Regions from separate parts of the Homo sapiens genome. Here regions 1, 2, 4 and 5 are each linked to region 3. Evidence: fine-mapped expression QTL. A gene starts in region 3. Each other region holds a variant in brackets. All regions are shown on one strand. Distances are from middle to middle.

Region 1 (5,545 bases), 22 kb before region 3:
GCAGTTTAAATCCCTGAGGATGGTAGATCACACCTAGTGTGTCCACCCAATGATTTCAAAGTATTGTTAATATGTTGCTTCTCTTGTTGTCATTGTTGTTGTTAAGTAAAATGTGTAAGTTAATTAAGTTTGTCAGTGTCAGTCAACAAGAATTTATGATGTTTCCACAGGCTACATAGGTATACTAGGAGTGGAAGATAAAGGGAATAAAAAAGTATAACCAGGAGTTGCTGCTTCTGGTTCTTGTTAGTCCCTGCTTTACCCATTCCTTAAATGTTTATGAGACAAAGGCAGTGGTTTCAGGACAATGTTCATATATAGCAGGAAATGCAGCATGAACCTTAATCAGAGATAAACTAGTTCACACAGCCGCAAGAACTACAAAGACATTGTTCATAAGAGTTGTCAAAGATGAATTTGAAATGAATTTTTGTTACATATGCAGAGATGATGAACTTTGGAACCCCAGCTAGTTCAAGGTGTCATAGAGGCGAAAGAAATATACTGCTTTGTGGGTTCTGGTAATAAGCAAAGACAACATACATACTTTCCTTAAAGGTGGATTCGTAAATGCAACTGGAATGTGAAAGAAATTGCTTGCAGTTTTTAAATGGCAGTTGGTTTTATGAATCTTGTAACATTCTAATCACATTTTCACTGCTATTCTGCAAAATGTTTACCCTTGCATTGCTTTCACTTTCTTTTCTTTCTTTTTCTTTCTTTTTTTTTTTTTTTTTTTTTTTTTTTTGAGACAGAGTCTCGCTCTATCAACAGACTGGAGTGCAGTGGCCTGATCTCTGTTCACTTCAACTTCTGCCTCCTGGATTCAAGGGATTCTCCTGCCTCAGCCTCCCAAGTAGCTGGAACTACAGGTATGCGCCACGGTGCCCAGCTAATTTTTGTATTTTTAGTAGAGATGGGGTTTCACCATGTTGGCCAGGATGGTCTTGATTTCCTGACCTCATGATCCACCTGCCTTGGCCTCCCAAAGTGCTGGGATTACAGGCATGAGCCACCATGGCCGGCCTCACTTTCTCTCTCTCTCTTTCTCTCTCTCTCTCTCTTCCCCCCGCCCCATACCTTCCCTCCCTTCCTTTCTGCCCCCTTCTCTCTCTTTTGAGACAGAGTCTAGCTCTATTGCCCAGGCTGGAGTGCAGTGGCAGGACCATGGCTTACTGAAGCCTTGACCTACTTGGCTCAAGCAATCCTCCCATCTCAGCCTCCTGAGTAGCTGGGACTGCAGGCATTAGCCACCACGCCCAGCTAATTTTTGTATGTTTGGTAGAGATAGGATTTCACCATGTTGCCTAGCTGATCTTGAACTACTGAGCTCAAGCAATGCACCTGCCTTGGCCTCCCAAAGTGCTGGGATTACAGGCCTGAGCCACAGCACTGGCCCCTCACTTTTTAGTATTAGATGAAAACCTACACAAATCAATTTCAGACATTCAGAAACCAAGTTTCCTTTTTTCATTTTTTTTTTACAGCTTCATGGAGATCTAATTGACATACAATAAAACTGCACGTATTGAAAGTATACAGTTTGATAAGTTTTGACATATGTATATACCAATGAAACCATGACCAGTCAAGATAATGAACATGTCCATCACCCTAAAAGTTTCCTTGTGCCCCTTGGTAATCCCTTTCTGCTGCCCCTCTCCTCCCCACAGGCAACCACTGATCTGCTTTGTGTTACTATACTTTGCATTTTCTAAAATTTATATAATGTAATCATATAGTATAAATTATATTGTTGTCTGACTTTTCACTCAGGATAGCTGTTTTGAGATTCATCCATGTTGTAATGTGTAAGGAACATTCTATTTTTTTCAATTGTTTCATTTAGTCAAGTTGTTAATTGAAGTTTTTTTTTCTTTTTTTCCCTAATATAGGTAGATTTTAACTGGTGCTTCTTATGTTTTGAACAGGCAGGGTGGATTTGCAGTGCTTTCTCTCCAACTTGCAAACTGACTCTCAATGTAGAAATTTACTACCTATACTTCAGTTTGTTGCTTTGAAAATGAAGCCTAAATGGAGGGAGAAAAGCTCTTGTTGTTTTATTATTTTTGACAATGATTTTAGTTGGGGGTGGACATTTTTTAGGAATCCAACATTTTCTACTGCATCTGATTCATTTTTCTTCTGTAGGTATAGTATTATTGCTACTGTGGTGTAGCTTCAGGATTGGTTAACCACGCTTCCACTACTTACTGTAGGCCCACAACACCAACATAGAATTTGTTTCCATGTGCTTCAAATAAAAATTGTGTTCTGGGGCTGGTAATAAGGGTCAGCTCATAGAGTTAGACTAAGTGTGCACGGTATGACTCTGGAGACACAATTTACAAGGTAGTTGGTGTAAACTGTGCCGCTTATGTTCCTACCATTTACAACCTGCACAACTATACATGGTAGTCATCTCTTGGAGAGTAGGTGACTGAGCAAAAGGACAGAATAAACCAGCCCAGGTAGGAAGAGAAGCAATTAAGTGTTGTGTAACAGAAATTACGGATGAAAGTATTTTAAGAGACTTAAAATGGTCACTGATATCAACTGCAGAAACAGAATCACTCTGAGATATAAACATATCTCAGTTATTACCCATCTAAAAATAATACTTATTTTTTCTCCAGCTACCACCTTGTTTCTCTTTTCAATGGAAAGTCCTCAGAAGAGTTATTATATGCCTTGCATTGTCTCCACTTTCTTGACCTCCTATTTGCTCTACAACTCATTCCCATCAGGCTTTCATCTGATCACTCCAGTCAAACAGATCTTATGGAGGCTGCCAATGAGCAATGGTTTGCTAAGGCTAAATCTCTGTCTCATTTTCCTTGATCCCTTCCTCAGCAGCAACTAGCACAGCCATGCTTTCCTTGAAACATTTCCTCCTCCAGGCTGGTCTCCTATCTCACATTCACTGGCAGCTTCTTCTTCATGTCTTTGGCTGGCTCCTCTTCCTTGACTAGACCCATAAACATGCTGGAAAACTCCAGAGATATACCTGGTCCTCTTTGCTTTTCTATGAACACTCTTTCCCTACATGATTTTATTCACTCCTGAGGATAAAAATTAATTCTCTCAATTTGTCTCTCTCAATCTTTGTATGACACACACACACACACACACTCAAATTTAAAATACTTATCTCAAGCCAAGACCTCTTACTCTGCCTTGAACTCTAGAGAGGGAGCCTTGGGTTACTTCTTGTAATATTTCCTAGCAGTTTTCTCTCCTTAAACTATAGTGGGTGCTCAGCCTGGGCAACACAGTGAGACTCTGTCTCAAACAACAAAC[G/A]AAAAAGAAAATATGATAAATATCAGATGTTATAGGAAATTTCAAATTAAAACAACAATGAGATTCTACTACACACATTAGAATGGCTAAAATTTAAATGCTGAAGACACCAAATACTGATGAATATGTCAAGAAACAAGAACTCCAATTCATTGCTGGTGCGAATGCAAAATGGCACAGCCACTTTGGAAGACAATTTAGCAATTTCTTTCAAAAGTAAACATGCAATACAATCCAACATTTAGTTCCTTGGCATTTACTCAAAGAACTGAAAACATGCTTGCACAAAAATCTGTGTGTGGATGCTTATAGCAGCTTTATTAATTGCCAAAACTTGGAAGCAACCTAGTGTCCTTTAGTAGTTGAATGAACAAATAAACTGTGGTATATTCAGATAATGGAATAATATTCAACTCTAACAAAGGGCTATCAAGCCATGAAAAGATATGGAGGAAACGTAAATGCATATTACTAAGTGAAAGAAGCCAACCTGAAAAGGCTACATACTGTATGATTCCAACTATATGACATCTGGAAAAGGCAAAACTATGGAGACAGTTGAAAGATCAGTGGTTACCAGGAGGTGGTGGGAGGAAGGGATGAACAGGTGGAGAACAGGGTTTTTAGGGTAGTAAACCACTCTGTTTGATATTATAGTGGTAGATATATGTTATTATACCTTTGTTCAAGCCTACAGATTGTACAACATCAAGAGTAAACCAGATGAAACCTCAAATAATTATTTTATTGACCTATTTATCGGTTCATCCACATTGTACTTTTTAATGAAAATGTATCTTTTGCACTAAAATGCCACAAATCTGGTATAGTGTCCTAACTTGGTTTGATTTCTGAACCTTGGCAAACTGGACTGTTTCTAATCTTAAATCAACAGGCTCTACAGAAGTAAATTCACATAAGAACTATGTGTTTAGTTCCTTTTAAATGCAAAGTATAATGAAGTAATATTTTAAATATACTCAATTGAAGTGTGTAAAACCAATGGGAGGACCCCTGTTGCAGGACGAAGGTGGAATTTTACCGGTTGAAGAGCCAGATACCAGTATAATGACTATAGGACCAGTTACTATAACTAATATGGGTTTTTTTTAATCTTGCAAATTAATTCTCAAAATTAGGGAGCACATGGAAATATTCTGTCACAACATTAAGGGATTTAAGAATAGCAACAACAATAAAACAAAGGATTGTGACCATGTGAGAGCAGTCTCTGCTTTTAAAGAAATGGCATTTTGTTTAACATTGTGAGAAATCCTGTGTGCTTAAAAATAGATACCTTATATTAAAATAGTTAAGAACAGTATTTTTCAGTACCTCTGATAGGCCCACCATTGTGCAAGTTTATTTATAGAAATACACAATGGCTCTTTTTAAAATATACCAAGTATAATTAGTAGCAGATTTATGTCTGTCACAACTGTAAAGTTACAGAAAAAAAAATCAGTAGAGGGAGAAATTCTACCCACAAAACAAAGAAATATTTTCTAAAACCACTCAGGATAATAACACTAAACAATTAGACTGACGAAATAATATATATAGCACTTAAAATACCTGAAAGCATTTAAAATATCTGAAAATTACATGTGTACTAATAGAACAAAGAAAGTCATTCAGAAAAAAAAATGTAAATTCCATCTCTACATTAGTTCTTCTATTCTTCATAATCTTTCTACCCATATTTACAAAAGCCAGTTTTAATCATTTCACAGAAGGTAAAAAAGCTCAAAAAGATTTTTTTGCAAAAACAGAAACCTCCTCAGACAGGGCAGTCATACTAAATCCGCAAACAAGATTTGCTTTTAAGGAGAGAGAAACCATGTAGAATGGACTATATAAAAATGCTGAAAATTCAACTTAGGGAAATAAATGGTGAATCTAAGGATGCTGATACTCGTATGATAACCTGGAGTTCTGTAACTACGCTAAAAAAGCAGGAATCTAAAGCTGTCACATTTTCTTTACAACCAACAACAACAAAAAAATGTGTACCCGTCTGTCTGTTTTAACCACCACTTCTCCAACTTGAAGAAAAAAGGGAGAACTAGCAAGAAATATTTATCTACGATTCGTGCATACACCTGACCAAAGTAACTGGTGAACTTCCTCATTTGTGATTTTCCGCATAATGGAACACCTTATCTGATGGCTGTTTTTTTTCTCATTCTTATGGGTGCCATTAAGTTATGCTTTAGAGTGTGACACGACATTAAAAAGTGACACA
Region 2 (6,264 bases), 31 kb before region 3:
CCGCAGCCAGCCAATTGTTATTTGTTGAATGAGTGAATGTTATGTGTGGAAATATTACTTGAAAACTGTGGGGAAAAGAGTTTCATAGTTCAAAGATAACCTTAGAAATCTTGTAAAATTTAATGTAATTGTCAGGCCTCTGAGCCCAGGCCAGGCCATCGCATCCCCTGTGACTTGCACGTATACATCCAGATGGCCTGAAGTAACTGAAGATCCACAAAAGAAGTAAAACCAGCCTTAACTGATGACATTCCACCATTGTGATTTGTTCCTGCCCCACCCTAACTGATCAATGTACTTCGTAATCTCCCCCACCCTTAAGAAGGTTCTTTGTAATTCTCCCCACCCTTGAGAATGTACTTTGTGAGATCCACCCCTGCCCACCAGAGAACAACCCCCTTTGACTGTAATTTTCCATTACCTTCCCAAATCCTATAAAACGGCCCCACCCCTATCTCCCTTCGCTGACTCTCTTTTCGGATTCAGCCCACCTGCACCGAGGTGAAATAAACAGCCATGTTGCTCACACAAAGCCTGTTTGGTGGTCTCTTCACACGGACGCGCATGAAAGTAATTATATGCTGACAATGAGATTTTAGTAAGAAGAATTAGAAATGGTACTAATACCAAGGCAGGAGGATTTTTAAAAATACACAAAAACTAGCCAGGCATGGTGGCGCATGCCTGTGATCCTAGCTACTTGGGAGGCTGCGGCCAGAGGATCACTTGAGCTCAGGAAGTTGAGACTGCAGTGAGCCGCATCATGCCACTGCACTCCAGCCTGAGTGACAAAGTGAGACTTTGTCTCAGAAAAAAAGAAGGAAAGAAGGAAGGAAGGGAGGGAGGGAGGGAGGGAGGGAGGGAAGGAAGGAAGGGAAGGAAGGAATGAAGGGAAATGAAAGACAGAAATGAAAGAGAGAAAGGAAAGAAAGAAAAGAAAAGGAAAGAAAGGAGGAAAGAAAGAAAAGAAAAGGAAAGAAAGAAGGAAGGGAGGCTAATAAGCTTGAATGTAATGGTAGAATTAAGGTGGTCATATATTCAGAATCTCAAAAACAAAGCAAGTCTAGAGGCAATGATTGCAGTTTTGCAGTCAATATTAAATCAAGTAGCTTTTGAACCTTTTTCACTGTGTTTCACAATGAGAAATATATTTTATATCAAGAATGAGTACAATCATATATGCATGAGATGCCTCCTGTATTTTCCATTCATTGTCTCCTCTTTTATCATATCCTATCCAGAGTGATTCAGTTTTTCACACACTTTGAAAACATGGATCTAGGCATGTTATAGGAACCAAGATAGTATGCAAACTTATCCAAAGGATTAAGACATAACTCATCTTTTATCACTCTGTCTTTCTCTACATACAGTGGCTATTGTTTCTGTCACCTCAGCATGCATTCACCTACTTTCTGGTAATGACAGCATAATTTTCCTTTTGGAAATTTTCCTTCTCCTTGTTTTAGTCCATAGGACTCATGTCAATGCCCTGCCCACCTCTCCTGTCTCCCTCCCACCCCATAATTCTGCCAGCTCTGGGGAGGCATGCCATCTCCTTCTGGGCAGGCAGAGTAGCTATCTCTCTGACCACAAGGACTGTCTCAGTAGTGGGCATATAACCTAGGCAAGGCCAAATCAGTTCTTGTTTTGGTGGACTGCAAGCTGCTGGGAATCAGGCCTGTAGATCCGGGAAGTGATCATGTGAAAGAGCTGCCTAGAAGGGACGCTAACAAGAGAAAAGGAGATGGAGACCTTATGGCAGCAACTGTGACCCTGGATCCAATCACCTTTTCCTATGCACCAGTAAATTTCCCTTTTGAAATTCTAATTTAAGAAAAACCATCTGATGATGTTTAGTATGTGAAATACCTTGAATTTTTTTCAAAATTTGCATTCTCAGATCTCTTCAGTATGCTAAATTTATAGAGAGCAAAAGTAAGGAGAAATTGTCATATAATCACTTGAATGTTAAATGATATTACAAGTGTCTAAATTCATTTTTACATGAGAAAATAAAATTTGTAGGACATTTCAATGCATTATCAAGTCTTGATCTTTTTCTCAATGTCTACGTATTTCTAGTGTTGCTGTTCTGAGAAGTACCAACTTCATTTTACTAAGAAAAACACATTGGAAAAATATATATACCATTTACATTAGGATATTCACTGAAAAATACAAGAAACCAAGGTCCCCCTCCCCTAACTTCAGTTTAATTATTTTCTCAATCAGTATACACCAGAGATGCCATATAACCATATGAATTTATTTAGAGCTACCTATAGAAGGTAAGATTTAAAGTAAGTTTTTAACTTATGTAACTCACATTTTTCAATTCTACTTGATATTTGATTTTAAATGTCTACATAATTTATTGATTTGAAAAAATTAATTCAAAGCAGAATGTATATTGAAGGCTACTAGTCCAAAAAATTGTCCATAAATGAAAAGGTTATACTATTTACACGACAGAGGAAAAATACAGAAGATAAGTGATACTGGGCAAACCGACATCATTTACTGATTAGTCACTGCCAGAACATACAAACAAGCTTATGCCTGATTACAGTTTATCTCTATCAGATGTTCATTGATGTTCACTACTTTGTCTTTAATACATTATATGAAAATCTAGACCAGAGTTATTAATATTCAAATTACTCCTTAAAAGTGAAGGCAATTGTTTTCTATAGCAGAATTAAAATAGGGCAAGATATGACAACATTCCAGTACTTCTAGGAAATCCATATCAATCTCACATGGAAAGATTTGGCTTCAAGCTGGGAGGTCTGGAGTTAGCAGACAGGATGAGTCACTT[A/G]TACGATATTTTTTTGAGAAAACGACTGATTTGGAAATCTTGTGCTTTCACTGTTACTAGTGTTAATTACTGCTTGCAAAGAGTTTTACCCAAAGCAGGTGTATTTAATGATTCTTAAGATAGCTGACAACAAAAAAAGCAAAACCTCACAGCTATTTTTATGTCTGTGTTGTTATGAGTTTCAGCATGGGTACAAAAACATTTACAGTTGTGGCTGTGGCAAAATTGGTTTTATTTCCTTGATAGCTATACATAGAAGACTAAGTAATTTATGGAGATCAGAATAAAAAAGTTTTATTGAAGGGTAGGCACTTTTGAAATTTGGACAAGTCAATAAAGAAGTAATTTGAAAAAAATATTACATTTGCATTTTTTTCTTGTTGAGCATCTTAAATATAATATTTTTGGAGTACTAACTATTCTTTATTGCTGTAACTGTTAAAAGTTTAATTCCTGAGATTTTTGGAGTCGGTAAAAGTTCTTAAAGTGAGCAGAGGAAAGAAATGTCTTTCCCAGATAGGAGGCTGAACTGTGAATCAACAGTGTCAATCAGTTACTTTCTGTCATTTTTCCATACAGCAGTTTTCATCTGGGATATGTTTACACTGTAGTTTATTCCTTGACTGCCCCCAAAATATACTACTCTAAGAAGCTCTTGGAAGAACTGAAATGTTCAGTTGAAAGATGGTATATAAGTAAAAATTATTATTGTGAAATATTTGTCATTGTTAAGTAGCTTTCCTCTTTTAAAGTATGAACTTGTATGTGAGTGTTTTACATCTGGTTTGATTTAAATAACAATTCAAGTATCTCCTTTAAAATGATGTTCTGAAGAACATTAATATTTATGAAGCACAGATATAAATACACTTTCTGAAAGGCAGAATATTGAATATTCCTTGAAAATCATTTGTTTTGATCATTTTTTAGACTATCAAGATTACAACCTAGCCTTTGGTCCACATCACATTTTTAATAGTTCATAACTTTTTATCCATATACTTAACTAAAAATTTAGAAAACGTTTATCACCAAGTGCATGAAGGAAAACTTCAAACTGTAACATTTCATTTAAAAGCTATATTCAAATGAAGATAGGATCTGAATATAAGCTATTTGTGCTTATTTTCAGCTATGGCTAACACATAAGCTGTTCATTGGGTTTTTGCTTGAAATGGAGTTGTATCATAGTCTTGAAAATGAATTCCCTTAGAAGTTGTGATCTTCATAATAGCACCATTTAAAGCATCATCTTCAATGAGTGTTATCAATCCATTGGCAATCAATGGTGGGCTAAAAATAAAGAAAACAGTATTTTGAAACGAAAGAATGAGGCATATTACCACTTCATTTTAAGTTATTTTCTGAAGAATCTATTAAGTTGAACATGTTATAGGGAAATGTGTGTCATTAAACTATTGCTACTTCCAATTTTTATTTAATTCCATATTAGATATCTAGATTAGATATCTTATTTATCTAATTTATTCAATTAGATTTCTTTCAATTGGATATTAACTAAATTATTTGATAAATTTAGCTGTAACCTTCCATCATTTTGGCAGGAGGAATTTATACTCATTATTTTCACTGAGCAAATGATCATTTTCTCATCTTTATCGTATCAGTAGATCTTAGACTTACCAGATATAGATGTTATTAGTGTAGAAATATGATTGGTAACAGCTAGCATTTACTGAAAATTTTATTTTTTACCAGTTACCATTTTAAGTACCTTGTATGTATCATTTTATTTAAGTTTTTCAAAGTCCCTAAGTCTGTTGTATTATCTCTATTTTATATGTGAGAAAATTGAAGCATCTAGAGGTATGATGGGTAAGTTCATGGTTAGTGGTAGAGCCAAGATTTGATCTCAGGTCTGATTCCTTCAACATGATAACTATGATTCATGAAATCCTCAGTTGCTTGAATTCAGACATAATTCACTGAGAAAGTATGTGTCCATGTATGTGTGTGTATCAACTATTTCTTATAAAAGTGGTTGAAGTCATGGAAACTTGCAATATTTCACAGACTATATTTGAATATTGCTTGGAATTTAGGCAGAGAAGGTATCATTGCCTTCAAAGGTGACTAAATATCAACTTTATGACTGATGGTAGTAATGAAGCATTTTACATATTTCAAAGTAACATTCATAATGTATAAACTTACATTCTATTTATAAACCCAGAAAAATATATTTTCTCCCAGAGAGTTTGCCAAACCAAAAGTTTGAAGCTTGTGTTCATTTCTCAACTGTATAAGCTTATTTCTTCCCTTTTTATAGCTTATCTAAATAATGCTTTGCTTCATCATTTAAAAGAAAATAGACATAGTTTTACTTACTCCAAAATTCCATAGTATTTAATCATATCCTTGATATGATCCTTATATTCTATATATTGTCCCATGTTTTCTTCTTTTTCAATTGATTCAAGGATGGCTGTGTTAACAAAGCCTGGACAAATGGCATTCAGTCTCACACCACTGTTCATAAGATTAGCAGCCAACTGCCAATTAGAAGGTTGTAGGTTTCAGCAGTTTCATAAACATATAGCACAGGACAAACTGATCATTAAAGCATCTTACAATTTTCTGATGTAAAAAATACTAATTAGATATCCTCCCAGCTATGTAACAATGACTGGTAAATAGATAGTAAAATAACACATACATAAAGTATTGTATTAATTCCTGAAAATCTCACCTAATTAATTTTTTTTAAAAATCAGTATTACTGGACAACTCCTGGAAACAATTATGTAAGCTTCTCTTATCTACTGAACTCTGCAGGAGCCTGAAGCTAAGTAGCTGAGACTTAGAATCGATATCCCAAGTGTTATTTCAAATATGGTGGTTGTATAACAAATAATACTTAATTAAAAAGACTTTTAGTGAAAATGTTTAGAACTTTGATTCTAAAGACACTCTTAATAATCTGTCCTATCTGGAAGACAATTTAAGTATTTTCAGACTAACATTATTTGGCTTAATTTACAAACTATTGATTTTATTTGCAATTATTAAAAAATTAGTCAATTCTCATTATTCATGGATTACATATAAACAAATTTGTTAAATTTGCTTGCTAAAATTTACTTGTAACCCTGGAAATCAATACTTGTGGAGCATTTGTAGTTATTTGTGGACATGCACAGGGCAGTGAGAAATTTGAGTCACCGATGTGCATGTTCCTGCTGAGGTCAAGTAAGACTATACTCTGTCGTGCCATGTTTTTCTAATTTTGTGCTTTTTTATTGGTGATTCTGCTGTTTAAAATGGCTGCCAAACCCACTGCAGAAGTGCTGTGTAGTGTTCCTTAGTGTAAGAAGACTGATGTCCTGTACAGAAAATATTTGTGTTAGATAAATTTTGATCAGGCATGAGTAATAAGTGCTTTAGTAATGAGTTCAATGTTCATACAACCTATGATAAATAAG
Region 3 (5,589 bases):
CTATGGATAAAAATTGTGGTTGTTTTTCTACATGACGGAAATATATTCTCAGGTGTCCAGACCAACATATCAAGTCCTTAAAAAAAGTAGGTCAGCATAAGCTTTATTTTGATTGAAATAAATTCATATAATCATTAACAACCACCAGACATATTGGGGAAGACATGGATTAATCAGTTGCCATATAGATAAATTACTATGCTAGTTGTTTACTAAAAACATTTTCAAGATTTCCTAATATGTACCTTTTACACTCACTGTACGGGAATGGAAGAACAACAAACACAAACTGTTTATTTTTCATGGATTTTTTTTTTTTTGAGTCGGAGCCTCGTTCTGTCCCCCAGGCTGGAGTGCAGTGGCCTGATCTCAGCTCACTGCAAGCTCCACCTCCCGGGTTCACGCCATTCTCCTGCCTCAGCCTCCAGAGTAGCTGGGACTACAGGCGCCCACCACCACGCCCGGCTAATTTTTTGTATTTTTAGTAGAGACGGGGTTTCACCGTGTTAGCCAGGATGATCTCTGTCAGGCCTCTGAGCCCAAGCTAAGCCATTATATCCCCTGTGACCTGCACATATACATCCACATGGCCTGAAGTAACTGAAGAATCACAAAAGTAGTGATACTTAAATGGCCTGTTCCTGCCTTAACTGATGACATTCCACCACAAAAGAAGTGAAAATGGCCGGTCCTTGCCTTAACTGATGACATTACCTTGTGAAATTCCATCTCCTGGCTCATCCTGGCTCAAAAAGCTCCACCACTGAGCACCTTGTGACCCCCACTGCTGCCCACCAGCGGGCAACCCCCCTTTTTCCTTTACCTACCCAAATCTTATAAAATAGCCCCACCCCTATTTCCCTTTGCTGACTCTCTTTTCCGACTCAGCCAGCCTGCACCCAGGTGAAATAAACAGCCTTGTTGCTCACACAAAGCCTGTTTGGTGGTCTCTTCACACAGACGCGAGTGAAAGTCTCGATCTCCTGACCTCGTGATCCGCCCGCCTCGGCCTCCCAAACTGCTGGGATTACAAGCGTGAAGCCACTGCACCCGGCCTTTTTTCATGGAATCTTAAAAATGTTTCTTAAAATCTCAAATTGGGTCCAGAAAATGTCCCCCAGTATTTTTTTTTTCTCCTTCCATTCTGAGTATGTTCTAACTCTTCATAACTCCACAGAAACAACCTTCACCTTTTGGAAAATGAGGGTGTTAAATATGTATGTCTAATTGCCGCTTTAATTTTCTTTCCTCATTCTGTTCTCCACCGTATTCCTTATACTCTGCCCTTACCAATGTATAGTATACCATCTTGTTTTCTGACATCCCATTGAATTCCAGGCTCAAGCAACAGACAGTCTACCTCTTGCTGACATTTATATGCTATGGTACTCTTTGTAACTTACCTAAACTCTCTTGGCTGTGATTTGTTCATTTGGAAAATAAGTTATGTTTAGATTATCTCCAAGAAACTTTTCATCTCATATTTTTATAATTTCCACACTGTCTAAACAATTTTAAAAGTTATAGGCAACATTAAATCCTGAAACTGGAAGAATCAATGTCATGTTTCCTTTAGATGCAAGCAAATGCTCATGTCCAGACAACATGTGGATTTCTCATGACCAACATGCCTTCCCGGGTCACTTATGTGTCTGAGTATTTTTCCTCCTCCACAATCATTTATCCTTAAGGAATGAGTTTATAGCCAAGGTATTAATTTTAAATACTGGGAAAAAAACAATTGTAGTTAAATGTCATTTATGAAACTATATAAATTGAGACAGAAATGGCTTTCAGATTGTTTATACTGTTCCTTATGCCATCAGCATGAATGTTGAGATCTGACCTGGCTCTATCCTTGATCCAAAATATCATGTGCAATCAACATAATTGTCCTCTGGTACAATATGTTCCTCTTGCATTGTGTTTACAAATCTGTTCTGCTCATGCTTGTCATCTGTGTTATAGGTCTTTATTAGCATTTTCAGATTTCAGTTATGTAATTTCCTTTACAATTTCTCTTAACTGTTGGTACACCACTTCCTTCTAACACGTCAGTTCATTTTCATTCTCTTACAGAATATTTTAAAATTTTAAAATAAATGTACATTTGATGTCCCTTTAAGAACAGGAGCACTGGAATAAGATTTGCAAAAGTTTTCAGACCCCTTGATTAAAAAGTGCCTTACAATTTACTCAGTCTCTTTGAATAAAACTTTGTGAAATACAAATATTTTACTTTTCTAGTTTTTCTCCAGAATTTTTGTTTCCTGTAAGTTTATTGGGGCACTCTCAAGTTCTCCAATAGATGTACAAAAAAAAAAAAAACAGCTTTATAATCAAAGCTGTTTATTGTGTATGCCAATATTGTCCCTGATACTTCACAAGTAGATTGGTCTATTTTAAGTGAGTAGCCGGAAACAGGAAAGCATTGAGGAAAGGCTGATAGAGATGTTTCTACTACAATTCTAACATTGTATACTTTATTATGATTACTATTATTATTATTTTAAAGTACTGTCTCATTGGGGAAAAAGCCGGAGAAAACATATGGTCAAAAGCATCTAGCACTTCTGTGATGATGCTCCTTGAACTTGTATTCTGATATGTTTAAACGAAAAACACTGCCACATTTGATTGTCATTGGACTCCAGCTTTCTGGGAGAAGTTGTTTGTCAACAGTACCTTACTTAACCTACTTTAATTTTCCAAGTTTTGTCTGCAATTTCAATCATTTAATAATTACTGCAGCAGCACTGTCTTTGAATACATAAAGGAATTTTGATTACATTAATGCTGCCAAATGACTACAATAAAAGGATTTCTCCAGCAGTCTTGCCTTTCTTTCGGTTTTACAGCTATTGGGCTGTCAGAAGGAAACGTATCAGTCCAAACTGTCTTTTGGAGCTTCAAGGTAGCTGCTCTCGAGGAGGCAGCGGAGGCGGCACCCAGGGCCCCCTGGCCGGGCTGCCTTCAGGTTGTTGCTTGTTGAGAGCACGTTCCCAGTTGACAGATTGATTCCCCTGTCTTACCTCTCAGTTGTTGCTGGTCAGCCACATCGCACTGGATGAACAGAGTCTTCTGAGGTTCAAACTGCTCATCCAGGGCAGCTTTACACTGTACACCTGCTTCAAGATTCCAATCCACCAGCGCTACCTATAGACAAGAGGAGAGGAATCGCGGGCCTGCGCAGCTCACGAAATAGACGGACAAACAATAAACACACAAGAGGCTCCCCTCCTGGACCTGAAATTTGGCAATTAGGTTTGGGTTCCCTCCCAGCCACTTCTGAGGTGTGCTCACAGCCTCAGCTTCAGCAAATTTTGGAAGTGGCAAAGTGGGCACGCCGGGCGCGGCCTCCCTGTCTCCGCCAGTGCACCTCGGGCGGCGGGGCGAGTCTCGGAGTGTGTGGGCAGAGAAATTTCCGCGGCTGGGCGCCGGGCTTACCTTGGCGCCCTTAAGCAGCAGCGCCTCTGCAAAGGCTCTGCCTATGCCCTGAGCCGCGCCGGTCACCAGCGCCACTTTGCCGTTCACGTGCATGGTGCAGCCACTGCTGGGGCGGGCGGTGGGCGAGCTCCGCGTCTCCGCGCGGCCGCGGCTTTTATGCCCCCCTGCGCGCGCGCGCGTGCAGCCCGGCGGGGCGCTCCCCTGCCAGTGGGCGGGGAGGAAACTGTCAAGCCAGCGCCCGCCGGGGAACCCACGACTGTGTCACCTGCCCCCTGAGCGTTCTGGAGCGCCAAGCTTCGCGATCTTTGCCTTCCGGACTCGCAGACCGGCTCAAAGCCTCCCCTCAGCCTCTGGCTCCGTGATTGGCAGGCAGCTGACAGAAGAAAAGTTAAAAGGTTATTTCTGAAGAAGAGTTTCCTTCAGTGCCCTAAAGACCAACTGGATAGAAGGAGAGCGGAGCAGAGGCTTGGAAGCTTGGATCCCTCCTCCTGCACTCCCTCCCGGCCCCGACTCCGGAACAAAACAAGCAAACAATAAAGCAAACTTGTTGCTCTTTTGTCTCAAAGTTTTGTGTGAGTTCCCATCTCGTAATCAGTGGGGTTGAGGGTGACGGGGAGCAGAAGTAACTAATATCATTGTGTTTTCTTAGTTACATTTTGGACAAATTTTTACGGATACTGGAGATGAGAAGTGGACTCTGCTCTGTCCTGAAAACCTGGAATCATAACATTTCATGGCTAGGACTAGAGTGTCCTTGGCGCTGTGTTTCTGGTCAGTGTCAATTGTGTGTCATATTGAGATGCCCCCACAAAAACTGTCATCATCAACAGGCGCTCCAGAGCCGCTGGTAGCCTACCAAATTGTTGGCTCAATGGAATGCTTACTTGTTGAAATACACCAACTTTGGAAGCTCTGAGTCAAGTTTGGGACAGAGGTTCCTTGCTCTCCAGGAACTCCAGGGCTAGCTGTATGCGGACTTGCATAAATAACAAGGGCTATTCCACTGACTTTGTCTCTTTTTCTCAGGTTGTCAGCGGCAGGCTGCAATTTTAATTCTGTAAACGTAAGTGGTTGGCTTTTTTTTTTTTTTTTTTTTTTTAATCTTGAGACAAGATCTCGCTCTGTCTGTTTGGCTAGAATGCAGTGGCATAATCCCAGCTCGCTGCAACCTCAATCTCCAGGGCTCAAGCGACCCTCCCACCTTGGACTCCCAAAGAGTGCTAAGATTACAGGCATGAGCCACTATGCCCAGCTGGCATTTATTTTCTTAAAGAAAAAAAAAATCTAAATACTTGGGGGAAATGGGAGTTGAGCAAAAGACTGACACTAACAGCAGAATGAATCATTTTTATATCTTCTTTACCTTCTTTACTGGGAAAGGTGGCTGGCTCAGCAGGGAAGGAGTGTATGAGGAGACTGTGTAAAATGTGTCTTGTCGCGTTGTTGGTAAGCCGCTAAGCAAATGTCTTTAACATTAATTTGAAATTAGGTCTTGACAAAATCTTGAGAAATTAAAACAGGAAAATAGATATTTGTACTCTAGGATGATAATTAAAATTGTAATATGAAGAGTAAATTGAGGGGTCATATTGAAAGGGAATAATAGTAGAAGACAAAAAGAAAACAAGGAACCAAACAAAACTTCAGCTCCTCTAATGGCATGCACAGAACATAGAAGTTTCTGATGAAGGAACTGGCAAAAAAGACAGAAAAGGAACTGCTGGGGTAAAATGGCAACATGCTGGGAGAACACAGGTTTGCAGCTCTTGTGGGAGAAATACTTTCAAGAAGAAAGAAGTAGTTAATAATGCAAAATACTCAGGTGAGCACCAGGGAATAAAGGATGGAGAAATATTTTGAATTTTTCAGGACAATATTTAGTGTGAGTAAATTTAGAAGGCACAAAAACTGAACAGCTGAAATGATCTGTGAGAAGATAGATATTGTCATGGACTGAAGACCAAGGTTACATGGAAAGAGAAATGGACTGGATAATAGTTGAAAAGATTAGACAGCAAACATGTTTTTCTTTTAAGAAAAGATAAGAAGATTGATTGAGGTCAAAGTGCAATGAGTCAAGGATAGTGACAACTGGAAGAACAGGAAGCAGTTTGGCGGTGGCGGATAGGTGAGGCACAAGGA
Region 4 (6,264 bases), 93 kb after region 3:
CTAAGGAGCAAGGAGATATTCCTAGGATCAATACTTTGTATCCTTCAATTCAATCAAGTGAGCATTCAGTATTAACCATCACAATGGACAATTGCTTTTTTTTTTTTTTTTTAAGATGGAATTTTGCTCTTGTTGCCGAGGCTGGAGTGCAATGGTGCAATCTTGGCTCACTGCAACCTCCACTTCCTGGGTTCAAGTGATTCTTTTGCCTCAGCCTCCTGAGTAGCTGAGATTATAGGCACTTGCCATCATGCTTGGCTAATTTTTGTATTTATTGTAGAGATGGGGTTTCACCATGTTGGCCAGGCTGGTCTCGAACTCCTGACGTCAGGTGCTCTACCCACCTTGGCCTCCCAAAGGGCTAGGATTACAGGTGTGAGCCACTACACCCAGCCTTTGGTCCTCATTAGAAGCTGGTTTTATAATCACCTATAAAGCCCTAACAGGTTCTCTCGAATGCAGGTTTCTGATAACTATGGAGATTGTGACATCAGAATAGAGGAAAAACTTTCAGGTCTCACAGAGAGCTGAAATGTTCATGAATATCATGCAGAACAGGAATTACCTGCATGAACTGAACTAACAGAAGACTGAACTAATCTTTTTGACTTTTTTCTTAAAATGTTCTTGATCCTTCGTTTTGTTTTTCAGAGCCAAGGAAATTTTTTTGAGCTATTGACATCTTTTAACAAGTTACTATACTCCTATGAACAAAATTTGGAACATATTTGTTTCTCTCTACCTGATTTCTCCAGAATTTGGAAACTACTTGTGAGTATTCTTTATTTATGGCAATATAGTTATTTGCATAAGTGCAAGAAAAATCTGTTTTCAATTGTAACAGGACACAATTATAGAAACTGGTTATTTTACCAAGGTTTTGACTGAAATGGTGTGCTTTCCTTTAAGGAATCAAACTGGACTTATAGAGCAAATAAAAATCCCTTGGGAAAACTGGCCTCATACCTTGTCTACACAGTTCCTGTACAGGGTTCCTGACCAGTGGTAAGTAAAGAATGCCACTTTCTGACAGGCCCAGGAGCCCCAAGTTATCTTGGGGCCTCAGGGCCTGGGATGAGAGGGGCTGTAGTGAAAACCTCTGACATGCCCTGGAGACATTTTCCCCGTTGTCATGGGGATTAACATTTGGCTCCTCACTACTTTAGCGAATTTCTGCAGCTGGCTTGAATTTCTCCTCAGAAAATGGGATTTTCTTTTCTATCGCATTTTCAGGCTGCAAATTTTCTGAACTTTTATGCTCTGTTTCCCTTTTAAAACTGAATGCCTTTAACAGCATCCAAGTCATCTCTTGAATGCTTTGCTGCTTAGAAATTTCTTCCACCAGGTACCCTAAATCATCTCTCTCAAGTTCAAAGTTCCACAAATCTCTAGGGCAGGGGTAAAATGCTGCCAGTACCTTTGCTAAAACATAACAAGAGTCACTTTTGCTCCAGTTCCCAACATTTCCTCATTTCCATCTGAGACCACCTCAGCCTGGTCTTTATTGTCCATATCATTATCAGCATTTTGGGTGAAGCTATTCAACATGTCTCTAGGAAATTCCAAACTTTCCCACATTTTCCTATCTTCTTATGAGCCCTCCAGACTGTTCCAACCCCTGCCTATTACCCCGTTTCAAAGTCAATTCCACATTTTTTGGTATCTTTTCAGCAGTGCCCCACTCTACTGGTACCAGTCCATTACTGTACATTACCAGTCTATTACCAGTCCGTTTTCACACTGCTGATAAAGACATACCCAAGACTGGGCATTTTACAAAAGAAAGAGGTTTAATGGACTCACAGTTCCACATGGCTGGTGAGGCCTTACTATCATGACAGAAGGTGAAAGGCACATCTCACATGGTGGCAGACAGCAGAAGAGAATGAGAGCCAAGAGAAAGGAGTTTCCCCTTATAAAACCATCAGATCTTGTGAGACTTATTCAATACCATGAGAACAGTATGGGAGAAACTGCCCCCATGATTCAAATATCTCCCACTTGGTCCCTTCCACAACACAAGGGAATTATGGGAGCTACAATTCAAGATGAGATCTGGGGGTAGACACAGCCAACCCATATCACCATTCATGAGGGATCCACTCAAACACCTCCCACCAAACCCCACCTCCCACACTGAGGATCACATTACATCATGAGACTTGGAGTGGAAAAAAACATCTAAACCATATTATCAGGTTTAACAAAGAGCAGCAATTCTGGAAAAGTAACTAAATTATGTGGGGAGGCTAATGAAAGATAAGAATTATTTTAACAAAGTCTGTTTGTACAGAATTCTCTTGGCTATGATTCTCTGTCAAATATTTTTTTCTCCTGGTACAGAGAGGGCATTTTTTACATGGCAGTTTTTATCTCCTGTTTTTAGGAAGAAAAGAGAAGATTAGAATGTCCTTTTGCTTCTGCTGTTTATCAAGTGCCTTTATATGAAAAAAATCCTTATATCAAAGAGGTATATTGGGGGTAGGGGAAGCATATTCTTCCACCCTCCATTGGTTTATAAATATCCGTGGCTTACTGAAATCTTAACAATTAGACCATTTCTGTCCTTGTTATATTATTGGGCTCCTAAAGCATTTAGAACATCCTTCTTTTGACAAAGCTTTTTATTTAAGTCTATAATCTTATTGTAGTCTCGAAAGTCTCCTGTATCTGAAGCCCGAATATTCATTCTATTTACCTTCACATTCTTTACTAGGAATCTGAAGCCACCTTAAGGCAAAGGAATGACTTCCATGGAATACAGATGAAGTTGGTAAAAGGAAATACAAAGGAGAAAAAGTACATTTGTTCTGTTCTATGACTATTACTCTGATACACTGGTAATGCTATGATGATGGAAGGAACAAATAAATGTCTCAGGATCTTGATCTTCTGATAA[TAGAG/T]AGGGAAGTTAACAGTTCCTGTATTTACAGGAACTGTAATAGAGAGGGAAGTTCCTGTATTTACAGGAAGAATTTTAGCAGGGTAAACTTCAAAACCAGTAAAGGCTTGCGTGTTGCTACCATAAAAAAGAACAAGAAAGCCAACCACAAAAATTAAACACTAAATTGAGCAAAGAAAGAAAAGGCAATATTACTACTGAAGTATTAGAGAGCACTCACTACTTCCCTATTTTACCTGCATGTATAACCTATGACGTTACTCATTTATTTCTCTGTATGTCATTTGAGAAGTGACTTATGGAGAGAGAATAGATAAAATAGCATTCCTTAATTAAATATGGTAGGATGCAACGTATACATGACTAATTTGGGATAATATTTCTTGTGTGTGTGTGTGTGTGTGTGTGTGTGTGTGTTTGATAGAGTCTCGCACTGTCGCCCAGGCTGGAGTGCAGTGGCACAATCTCAGCTCACTGCAACCTCTGCCTCCCAGGTTCAAGTGATTCTCCTGCCTCAGCCTCCCAAGTAGCTGGGATTACAGGTGCCTGCCACCACGCCCAGCTAATTGTTTTCGTATTTTTAGTAGAGATGGGGTTTCACTATGTTGGCCAGGCTGGCCTCAAACTCCTGACCTTGTGATCTGCCTGCCTCTTCGTGTGTGTGTGTGTGTTTCTTTTTTGTTTTTGAGACAGATTTTCACTCTTCTCACCTTTTTATATAAAGAAAATGCATCTGGAACATTTAGATCAGTTCTTGACCATATTAAACAAATCTTATAGAATTAACACAAACCATGTTATCTAAATCTTGGGATTTTGAGCCTAAAAGCCTGTGCCTTAATTTATAATCAAAGGTCAAAAAGGTCAGATCTATAAAGAGAAGGTACAATGATGAACACTAGGTGATTGCTTTGAAAACTTTCTTGCAAACGTAGCTTACTTGGGGATTTTTGTTAATATATCTAATTCCGTAAGCCTGGGTGAAGCCTTGGATTCTGTATGACTCAGGAGCCCTTGGGACACTGTAGTGCTCTTAGTGGTAGAGCACCCTTTGAGCAGGATACTGAAGAAGAGCTATTTGACTTGAATGGCCTGGCTGGGTTTCCAAATTTTCTGGGGTGTTCTTGGACTTCTATTTTTCTAATTCACTTATGTAGCATCGTGAAAAGTTTTCTGAATATTCTCATTGGAATCACGTTCAACTTCTAGGTAAATTTGAGAGGAAATAGAAATATTTACAACAGTGAATCTTCCTACTTATTAATTATGCCTTTCTCAAGATATATTCACTTTGTTTTATGTCCATCTGTTAGATTCTGTAATTTTCTGAATAGCAGTTTTGTACATCATTTTGCATGTTTTGTTCCTAGGAACTCTATGTTTATTGCTGGTATCACAAATAGAATCTTTTATATTATTATATTCTCTAATAGGTTATTGATGTTGTGCAAAAGCATCATTGACTATATTGATCTCTCTGCAGAGCTCCTGCTAAACTCTAACAGGTTGTCTATACATATTTTTGAATTTGTTTATGTAGACAAATGTTTACATATAACAGTTATGTCTCTTCTTTTTTTACCCTGCTATCCTTAATTTCTTTTACTTTTTTCTTTTATTGGCAAGGAAATTTCAGCGCAATGTTGATTTTTTAATAGTGGTAGTGACCATTGTTTGTTGCCTTCTCTTAATGGATTATGCAGTTGTTTCTAGAACATATAATATTATTTTCCACCTTGAGAAATTTTCTGATGCCCATTTCTCTGCCAGGAATGTTATTTTGTCCATAGTCCTCATAGAACTGTTTCCTTCACATTAATCATACCAAAGATTCCGTGCCAACCGTGAAAAATTGTTGATTCTTTCAGTATAGTGATAAAAGAACCAAACACAAACTAGCTAAAACAATTTAAGGGAAATTTATTAGCCTCAAACTAAAATGTGCAGAAGTAGATTCTTGCTGTCATCACAATTGTATTTGGTATTGATGGCTCCATTTCTTTCTAAATTCTTGAACAAATTCCCTCTAAGTTGCAAATTTGATAGCAGCCCACTTCTTACAAGCTAAGCAACTCTATTAGGATGGGAACTTCTTCCTACTTAAAGTTAAGCTTCCTCCCTGGTTGGCCTTGCTTGGCTATGTGCTCATCCTCAAACTAATCACTGTTGAGGAGAAAGGACTCATAATTCTCTCTCTGTGGTAGGCAGAGTAGGCCCCTTGACCAAGTCTTACCAAAATTTTCTAAGCACTGAGAACAAATAGTTCACGGATCCATGAGATGCAGCTGGATAGAGCAAAGCATACGAAATCCACTAAATTTGCTTAAAGACATCTTTCCTGACAAGCCCATTTTTAAATTCTGTATCTAAGCTCTTATAAACTATTATGTCATGAATCCTGATTTGTAATTTATTAATTTATGCTTCCTGTACTAGAATATAAACTCCATGACAGAAGGGACACTGCTTTCCTTGTTTACTGTTGCATCTCCAGGATAGAGAGTGATGTATGCTGTATGGGAGGAATTAAATAAATAAACTTAACTGAAAATATCAGGAATCCATAACAGGGAAAAATAACATTCCAGTTTGTACTAAGAGACGGTGATATTGAATATGATAACCTTAACTTCCTTTTGAAATGAGTTGACAAGAAAAAGTTGAAAATTGTCTTTTTGCTTCTCTTTTTTAAGAAGTCAGTTGCCAATTAGATCTACTTGCAGCCTGGAAGAGCTATGACTCACCGTGAACTTGAATGAATGAAGTCTTTAGGCTGATTTTTACACATAATGTCAAAGTTCTCTTTTTCTGGTCGTAGCTACACCTTGCCTTTTATAAGTATTAATTATTAATACATTTTCATACATGTTGTTTATTTGGTTTAAATTCTATCTCTGCCATTTGGGAGGCTGAGGTGGGCCCATCACTTGAGGTCAGGAGTTTGAGACCAGCCTTGCCAACATGGTGAAATTGTGACTATACTAAAAATAAAAAAAATAGCTAGGCATGGTGGTGCACGCCTGTAATCCCAGCTACACAGGAGACGGAGGCAGGAGAAGCATTTGAACCCGGGAGGTGGAGGTTACAGTGAGCTGAGATTGTGCCACTACACTCTAGCCTGGGTAACAAAGCAAGACTCTGTCTCAATAAATAAATAAATAAATAAACAAAGAGACAAACAAACAAATTCTATCTCTGCCACTTACCTGCTATGTTATCTCAGGCATTTTTTTCCCTCATTTCCAGTGGGGTTGACTATTTCTGGCATTTTACTCAACTTCTCTAAAAGCTTTCATTTTCTTGTCTGTAAAAATGGAGTCTTAACCTCTACTCACATTGTATCATAAAGATTAAATGAAATA
Region 5 (6,264 bases), 86 kb after region 3:
CAAATCACTAAGCAATGTGCTCTTCAAGGTGGATGGGCTACTTAACTCAGGCTGTCAGGTTGCCTAAGTAACCATTACGTAAGAACACTTATCTTCCTGTGCTGATTCAACATACGTTAAACAACTGAGACTAAAAACCTACTAGGATGTGAACACTTGAAGGTTGGGTTTCTCTTATTTACTATTATATTAATGCCAGGACAGTGTCTAGAAACTAGTAGACACACAAAAAATTAGTTCATGAAACAAAGAAGGCTTATATACAGCTGCTATACTTTTTATCTTGTATTCCAATACTTGGCAAATACTAGCAGTTGAATTAATGTTTATTGAATTGAATTCCTAACTTGCATTCCTTGAAATAGTAGGCTAGGAACTATAAAATAAAAATAGACATGTACCAGCTGGGCGCAGTGGCTCACGCCTGTAATCCCAGCACTTTGGGAGGCTGAGGAGGGCGGATCATGAGGTCAAGACATGGAGACCATCCTGGCCAACATGGTGAAACCCCGTCTCTATTAAAAATACAAAAATTAGCCGGGCATGGTGGTGCGCACCTGTAGTCCCAGCTACTCAGGAGGCTGAGGCAGGAGAATTGCTTGAATCCAGGAGGCGGAGGTTGCAGTGAGCCGAGATTGCGCCACTGCACTCCAGCCTGCCAATAGAGCAAGACTCCATCTCAAAAAAAAAAAAAAAAAGAAGACATGTACCATAAAGTGTTAGAAGTCGCTGATAGAAAACTACATGTTTTTTTGTGGGAATCCAAAGATATGACTTTAAATATTCATCTGAACTCACTTATTCTACTGGTGGTTTTCAGTAACTATTGAATTTAATTTTTGATATTAAAGGCATACTTATTGGTATTCCTGAAACTATTTTGATATTTCCCAGCCCACAATTGTATATCTAGTAAAATTAATATTTTAAAATCTGATCTGCTCATATTATTTTAATGTAAAAAGGATTGTTGATTTTGAGCAATCTTTTCCACTCTTGTGGCTTTATAGGCCAGATGGTGTATAAAGCTTGTTATTCTATAAGCTTAGTGTTCTTCAAATATATATCTTTAATTTACACTTCTCTCAAGCTCCAGACTCTTAAGTCCTACAGAAAAATCGACATATTAACTTTCTTTCTTCAGAAAACATATCATATGTGCCCTGTGTGGAATCGGCTATCCTCCTTTAACTTTCTCTTCAGGGCCTAGTGTCTCTGCTCATTCAGAGCTTCAACAGCCAGTTTCCCAAAGCTAGTACTTTTCAGTGACTTTTCAGTGTTTCCATCTTACTCTCCACTGGGCCTACAGTAAAATATATGAATAAAAAGTAATGTGGTACTGAGAAAGTGAGACGGCCCAGGGGTTAGTGCAGGCTTTGCCAGTCACTGCCACTGTAGCCTAGTGCGTGCCCACAGTCTCACTGCTCCCCTCTTTAATTATGCTAAAAGTCAGATGTGCCAGTGGATAATTGCTAGGATTCTGTGAAAGGAAAATAAATCTTGGGGCCCCCAAATCACTAAGCTAAAGGGGAAAGTCAAGCTGGGAACTGCTTAGGGCAAACCTGCCTCCCATTCTATTCAAGTTATCCCTCTGCTCACTGAGATAAATGCATATCTGATTGCCTCCTTTTTAAAGGCTAATCAGAAACTCAAAAGAATTCAGCTGTTTGTCTCTCACCTACCTATGAATGGAAGCCCCTTCTCTGCTTGAGTTGTCCCACCTTTCCAGATGGAACCAATGTACATCTTACATATGTTGATTGATGTCTCATGTCTCCCTAAAATGTATAAAACCAAGCTGTGCCCTGACCACCTTGGGCACAAGTCATCAGGACCTCCTGAGTCTGTGTCATGGGCATGCATCCTCAACCTTGGCAAAATAAACTTTCTAAATTAACTGAGACCTGTCTCAGATATTTGCAGTTCACATTTTGGTAACCACGAAGGGATTCTGAGTGAAGGTGCCCCTGACCTTTGACAAATCTCCTATTGGTGCTTGGTACCAGCTTGAGCTATCTTTGTGGGTCTAACCAATAGGACAATTTGCTGAGGCCTGGAAGTGCTCCCTCCAGAGCATCCCTGATCTTCCAATATTTGGTCAAGATCTAAAGTTTATTGCTGTACAACTCTTTTTTTTTTTTCTTGGAGTTTTACTTGTTTCCAAAACAAGGAAGGCAAGTTTTTCCTGCTTCCATGACAATGGAAGGCAGGTAACTCCTGTATGGAGTTTGAACTCACTTCCAAGAGGAAAGACAAATTTGAGATTTTCCTGCTTCTAGGATGGTAGAGAGCAGTCTTAAGTCTGAGACCTATCCCTGGGTGAGTAACTGAATTGGTGTTTGTCTTGGCTAAAGTTAAGATTTTAGCCAAGACAAACCAGCTGATCTTAATTTCACCTTACCATTAACACACTCCGTAATCTTACAAGTTGCGCCATTGTTTGTTTTGCTTAATTTTTGTTGTTGTTGTTTGCTTGTTTCTGTTTTTGTTGTTATTTCCATATTTTCTCCATTGGGTTTGATCAACTCTGACTTGATCAAATACAAAGGAAAGTTCCAAATTATGAGGAACAAGGCCTCTGAAGTGGCTAAATTCCCATAAGAAAACAATGACAACAACAAGGTGGTGTGGTCGGGGGCGGGGGGAGAAAAACATACAGCAAAAGGAAAACAGAAAGGAGAGATTCTGCTTTTGATTACTCGAGGGGCTTTATTTACATAGCAATACCACCTTTTTGCTAGCCAGGCCAAACTGAAAGAGCAATGGCTGTTGCCCCATGCTGCAGTTCCATAGCTAAGAGTTCTGCCTTCTATTTTTCCACCATGACAGCCTGGGTTTGGTGCCTAAATCAAGCCCTTTCTGTTTGGATACTTGGCACTTC[T/G]GAAACAGCAGCAATTTGTCCGAGCTGAAATATGGTAAATAGATTAAAACATTTTTTTTGAAGGAGCTCAGTGGTTAAAAGTCAGCTTAATTAAAAACTAACATCCAAAATGTGTGTGCGTATGTCTGCATGTGTGTGTTTTTGTATTTAAAAGGCCTTCACCTTTTTTATTTTGTGTGCGTGTGTGTTTTGTTTTTTTTTTTTTCTCTTAGGACTTTGTCTTTTTCATCTCATTTGACTGAATTATGTTTCCTTCATTTACTTCTGCTGTCTCTCCTTTCTCTTGCACCCTGTGCTGCATGAGGGACCTAAAATAGTTTATAATAGCCTGGGGTTCCTTAAGGAAAATGGAGAAGGTGCCAGACTCTCTTTTGGGGAAAAACCACTGTTTTTACTTATGGAACTCCAAGAGTGTTTTCCAAACAGACAAGTTCATCTCAGCTCTTAAACTGCTTGCTTTTGTATTATGTTACCGGATTTTTTGACTAAAATAATTATTGCAATAGAGGTTACTCTTGGGTTTTTAAGGAAGTAAAGTTTAGATACTTGTGTTACCTGATTTTTTGACTAAAATAGTTATTGCAACATAGGCTATACTTGGGTTTTTAAGAAAGTGAAGTTTAAACAAATGTTTTTGTTTAAAAAAATTTTTTTAAAGTGCACTGTAAAAGCATCACGAGGTCTAGCTTCATAATAATTCTCCCTTTTTAGAGATCCAGGATTCAGTGTGGACTCTGCCCAGAGTTCAGAGATCCAGTTAGAAGATAGATAGTCCCTATCTAAATAAAATTGTTCTCCTCATGCAATCCTGTGATAGATTTCTACAATTTTATGTTTGATTTAGCATCTATCTTTAATCTCCCTGTAGCATCACCAGACCTTTTTTCTCTGTACCTTGAGATGTAAATTTTGCTAATCTGATTTTTAATCTAAGAGTTGTTTCCTTCAATATGCAAATTTAGGGCTGTTTACCTGACAACTGCCAGGATAATGAATCAGTTTATCAAGAGTTTGCAAGTCTAAGATACGGAAAAAAAAAGGAGGTCGTAGGAATTCATAAAGTGTATTTTTATCATTATGCCTAACACATCTATGTATTTGTGTGTTCTCTACACAATATTTCACTACTAAAATATATAAAAGAGCTCTTATTAATTGGCTTCAAGAAAAATAAAAGTCCTTAAATCAAATACTTCATCGGAGAAAAAGGAAAGACTAGTCAAATGCTTTTTCAATTTTATGTGACTTAAGTAAAATCTTTAATAAATAAGGTAGCTTAAAATTATTAGTAAAGTAGTATTAGAAATGTCTTAAAAATTATTATCAAGCAATTGCATACTTATCCCTGCCAAATACTATAAGGTGTCAAAATTTGGCATAGGGTTTATAAAACTATAAACACAGCCCAAAATGGAATGATCTTTCTTGTGTAATTTTTAATAGATAAGATATTGATATTGGTTTAATGAAAATAGCTACATCTCAAATTATTTAATAAAATTACCACAACCCATAATCTTCTGGCTTTAGGCAGTCCAGACCACAGGCAATAAGGAGGTTTGTTTGTAAGAGGACTGTTACCATCTTTTTTCAAAGCTAAACTATAAACTAAGTTCCTTCCAAAGTTAGTTCAGCCTATGCCCAAGAATGAACAAGGACAGCTTGGAGGTTAGCAGCAAGATGGAGTCAGTGAGGTCATATCTTTTTTAATGTCTCAGTTATAATTTTGCAATGGGGAGTTTCATAACTTTAAATGATGCCTATCACAGTTTTCATAATCTTGGTAAATGATTAAAATAAAATAATTAGGTAAATGTAATGGGATAAACACTTGTAAACAAACTTGTCATAATTTAGAATCAAAATTTATATTAAATTAAATAATATATATTTCATTATTTGGGTATTTTCCAATAAAAATATATTGTAGGAAAACATTCTGTCTAAAAAACAAACAAACAAACAAAACCCAAAAAAAGTTAATATGATCAAGTTGTCTATAATTAAAGGGATTTATAGTGGTCTTTCTAGAGATTAAATTTGATGATAAAAACACTTATACACAAAAGAATTGATTAGAACAATAAAATTTTCTTAAAGGATTGATTTACTCTTAATGAATTATAAGAGATTTTAATTTGTTTTAAACCCAAAGTTCAACTTGTATTGTTTCTTGATGTTTTCTGTTTTCTCTTCTCTTTTAGAAAGTGCGAAATAGTAATGCTCTTCTTCAACTTATTTTCAGATCATAAAAGTTTTTATTCCTTCAAGTTCTATTCGCTGTGGGCTGATGCTAGCAACGTTTTCTTTCTCTTTTTTTTTTTTTTTTTTGAGACTGTGTCTTGCTCTGTAGCCCAGGCTGGATGGAGTGCAGTGGTGAGATCTAGATTCACTGAAATCTCCACCTCCCAGATTCAAGCAATTCTACTGCCTCAGCCTCCTGAGTAGCAGGGATTACAGGCATTTTCCACCACGCCCAGCTAATTTTTGTATTTTTAGTAGAGACAGGGTTTTGTCATATTGACATGCCTGGTTTCAAACTCTTACCTTAGATGATCTGCCCGCCTCTGTCTCCTAAAGTGCTGGGATTACAGGCATCAGCCACTATGCCTGGCCTAACAATGTTTTGTTAAAGGCCTAAAGGAAACGTTTTCTTTCAACATAATATTCTGTGCACTGCAGGTCTTTTCCTCTGTCTTTTGATAACTGGCCTAATAGATTTTATGTTTAATCAAAGTAATTCCTATGCCATTATTATTAAGTTTTGGTTTGCCTAAAAAAAAAAACAGATGAAATTTTTTTAAAAATTAAAGTTGTTATATCCTTGTATCTTTCTGTATGTGCCTTTAAGGTTCTTGTGACATTGAGCTACAAGGATTTGACTCCTGAGTCTCAAAAGGACACCAAGTACTGCCAAATCTCAAACTCTGACAGCAATTAAAGCCTCATCTGCAGGCCCTGTAGAAGATGCCAATCAAAATAAACTGTGTTCCTGAGACACAGGGGCAGAAATTAAAGCTATTCAACTCCTCAAGGCCAAGGGATTATCATGGAAGAGGTGGGCAGGCGAGAATGTAAAGGCCAATTTTGAGAGATAAAGTAAATTCATTTTCTCTATAAATTAACTATTAACATCAAATGCACACTGATGAAAGACCAGCATATAGGCCCCTGTGTCAGAGTAACAAGGTTTTCTTGAAGCATGAATTAACTCCTTAATAAAAGCTATAAAGGCTATAAAAGGGAAGTTGTATCTTATGGGTCAAGATGAAAATTTTATAGATTGTTTATAAAATATTGGAAAACAAATATAATTGAATTCATGCTGTTTTTATTGGGGCTTATTGGCTGAAAAATTAAGTCTCCTCTTTCAAAGAATGAAG

What was found. PIP is the estimated chance that this variant, and not a neighbour inherited with it, causes the effect.
Region 1: its variant is the best candidate, but not a certain one, in a credible set for the expression of HPGD in transverse colon (CEDAR, PIP 0.73).
Region 2: its variant is the best candidate, but not a certain one, in a credible set for the expression of HPGD in whole blood (TOPMed, PIP 0.65).
Region 4: its variant is the best candidate, but not a certain one, in a credible set for the expression of HPGD in whole blood (TOPMed, PIP 0.56).
Region 5: its variant is the best candidate, but not a certain one, in a credible set for the expression of HPGD in whole blood (TOPMed, PIP 0.56).

The regions. Positions count from the first base shown.
Region 1 is chr4:174,496,849-174,502,393 of GRCh38, forward strand. The region is part of intron 4 of HPGD (15-hydroxyprostaglandin dehydrogenase); the gene reads right to left. Among named protein-coding and RNA genes, the nearest start is that of HPGD, 23 kb to the right of the region's middle. The variant G/A (reference allele first, on the strand shown) is at 3,301.
Region 2 is chr4:174,487,981-174,494,244 of GRCh38, forward strand. HPGD (15-hydroxyprostaglandin dehydrogenase) reads right to left here. Exons shown (of 7, transcript NM_000860.6): 6 at 5,171-5,334; 7 at 2,195-4,114. The coding sequence ends at 3,976. Among named protein-coding and RNA genes, the nearest start is that of HPGD, 31 kb to the right of the region's middle. The variant A/G (reference allele first, on the strand shown) is at 2,822.
Region 3 is chr4:174,518,912-174,524,500 of GRCh38, forward strand. HPGD (15-hydroxyprostaglandin dehydrogenase) reads right to left here and starts at 3,577. Exons shown (of 7, transcript NM_000860.6): 1 at 3,448-3,577; 2 at 3,033-3,156. The coding sequence starts at 3,540. LOC105377548 (a long non-coding RNA gene) reads left to right here and starts at 3,702. Exons shown (of 7, transcript XR_007058492.1): 1 at 3,702-4,218; 2 at 4,474-4,510. RefSeq lists an enhancer at 387-916.
Region 4 is chr4:174,611,240-174,617,503 of GRCh38, forward strand. LOC105377549 (a long non-coding RNA gene) reads left to right here. Exons shown (of 4, transcript XR_939492.3): 2 at 652-771; 3 at 910-1,005; 4 at 2,717-3,258. Among named protein-coding and RNA genes, the nearest start is that of HPGD, 92 kb to the left of the region's middle. RefSeq lists a silencer at 2,585-2,785. The variant TAGAG/T (reference allele first, on the strand shown) is at 2,900.
Region 5 is chr4:174,604,365-174,610,628 of GRCh38, forward strand. It overlaps LOC105377549 (a long non-coding RNA gene), which reads left to right and starts at 5,733. Exons shown (of 4, transcript XR_939492.3): 1 at 5,733-5,939. The variant T/G (reference allele first, on the strand shown) is at 2,882.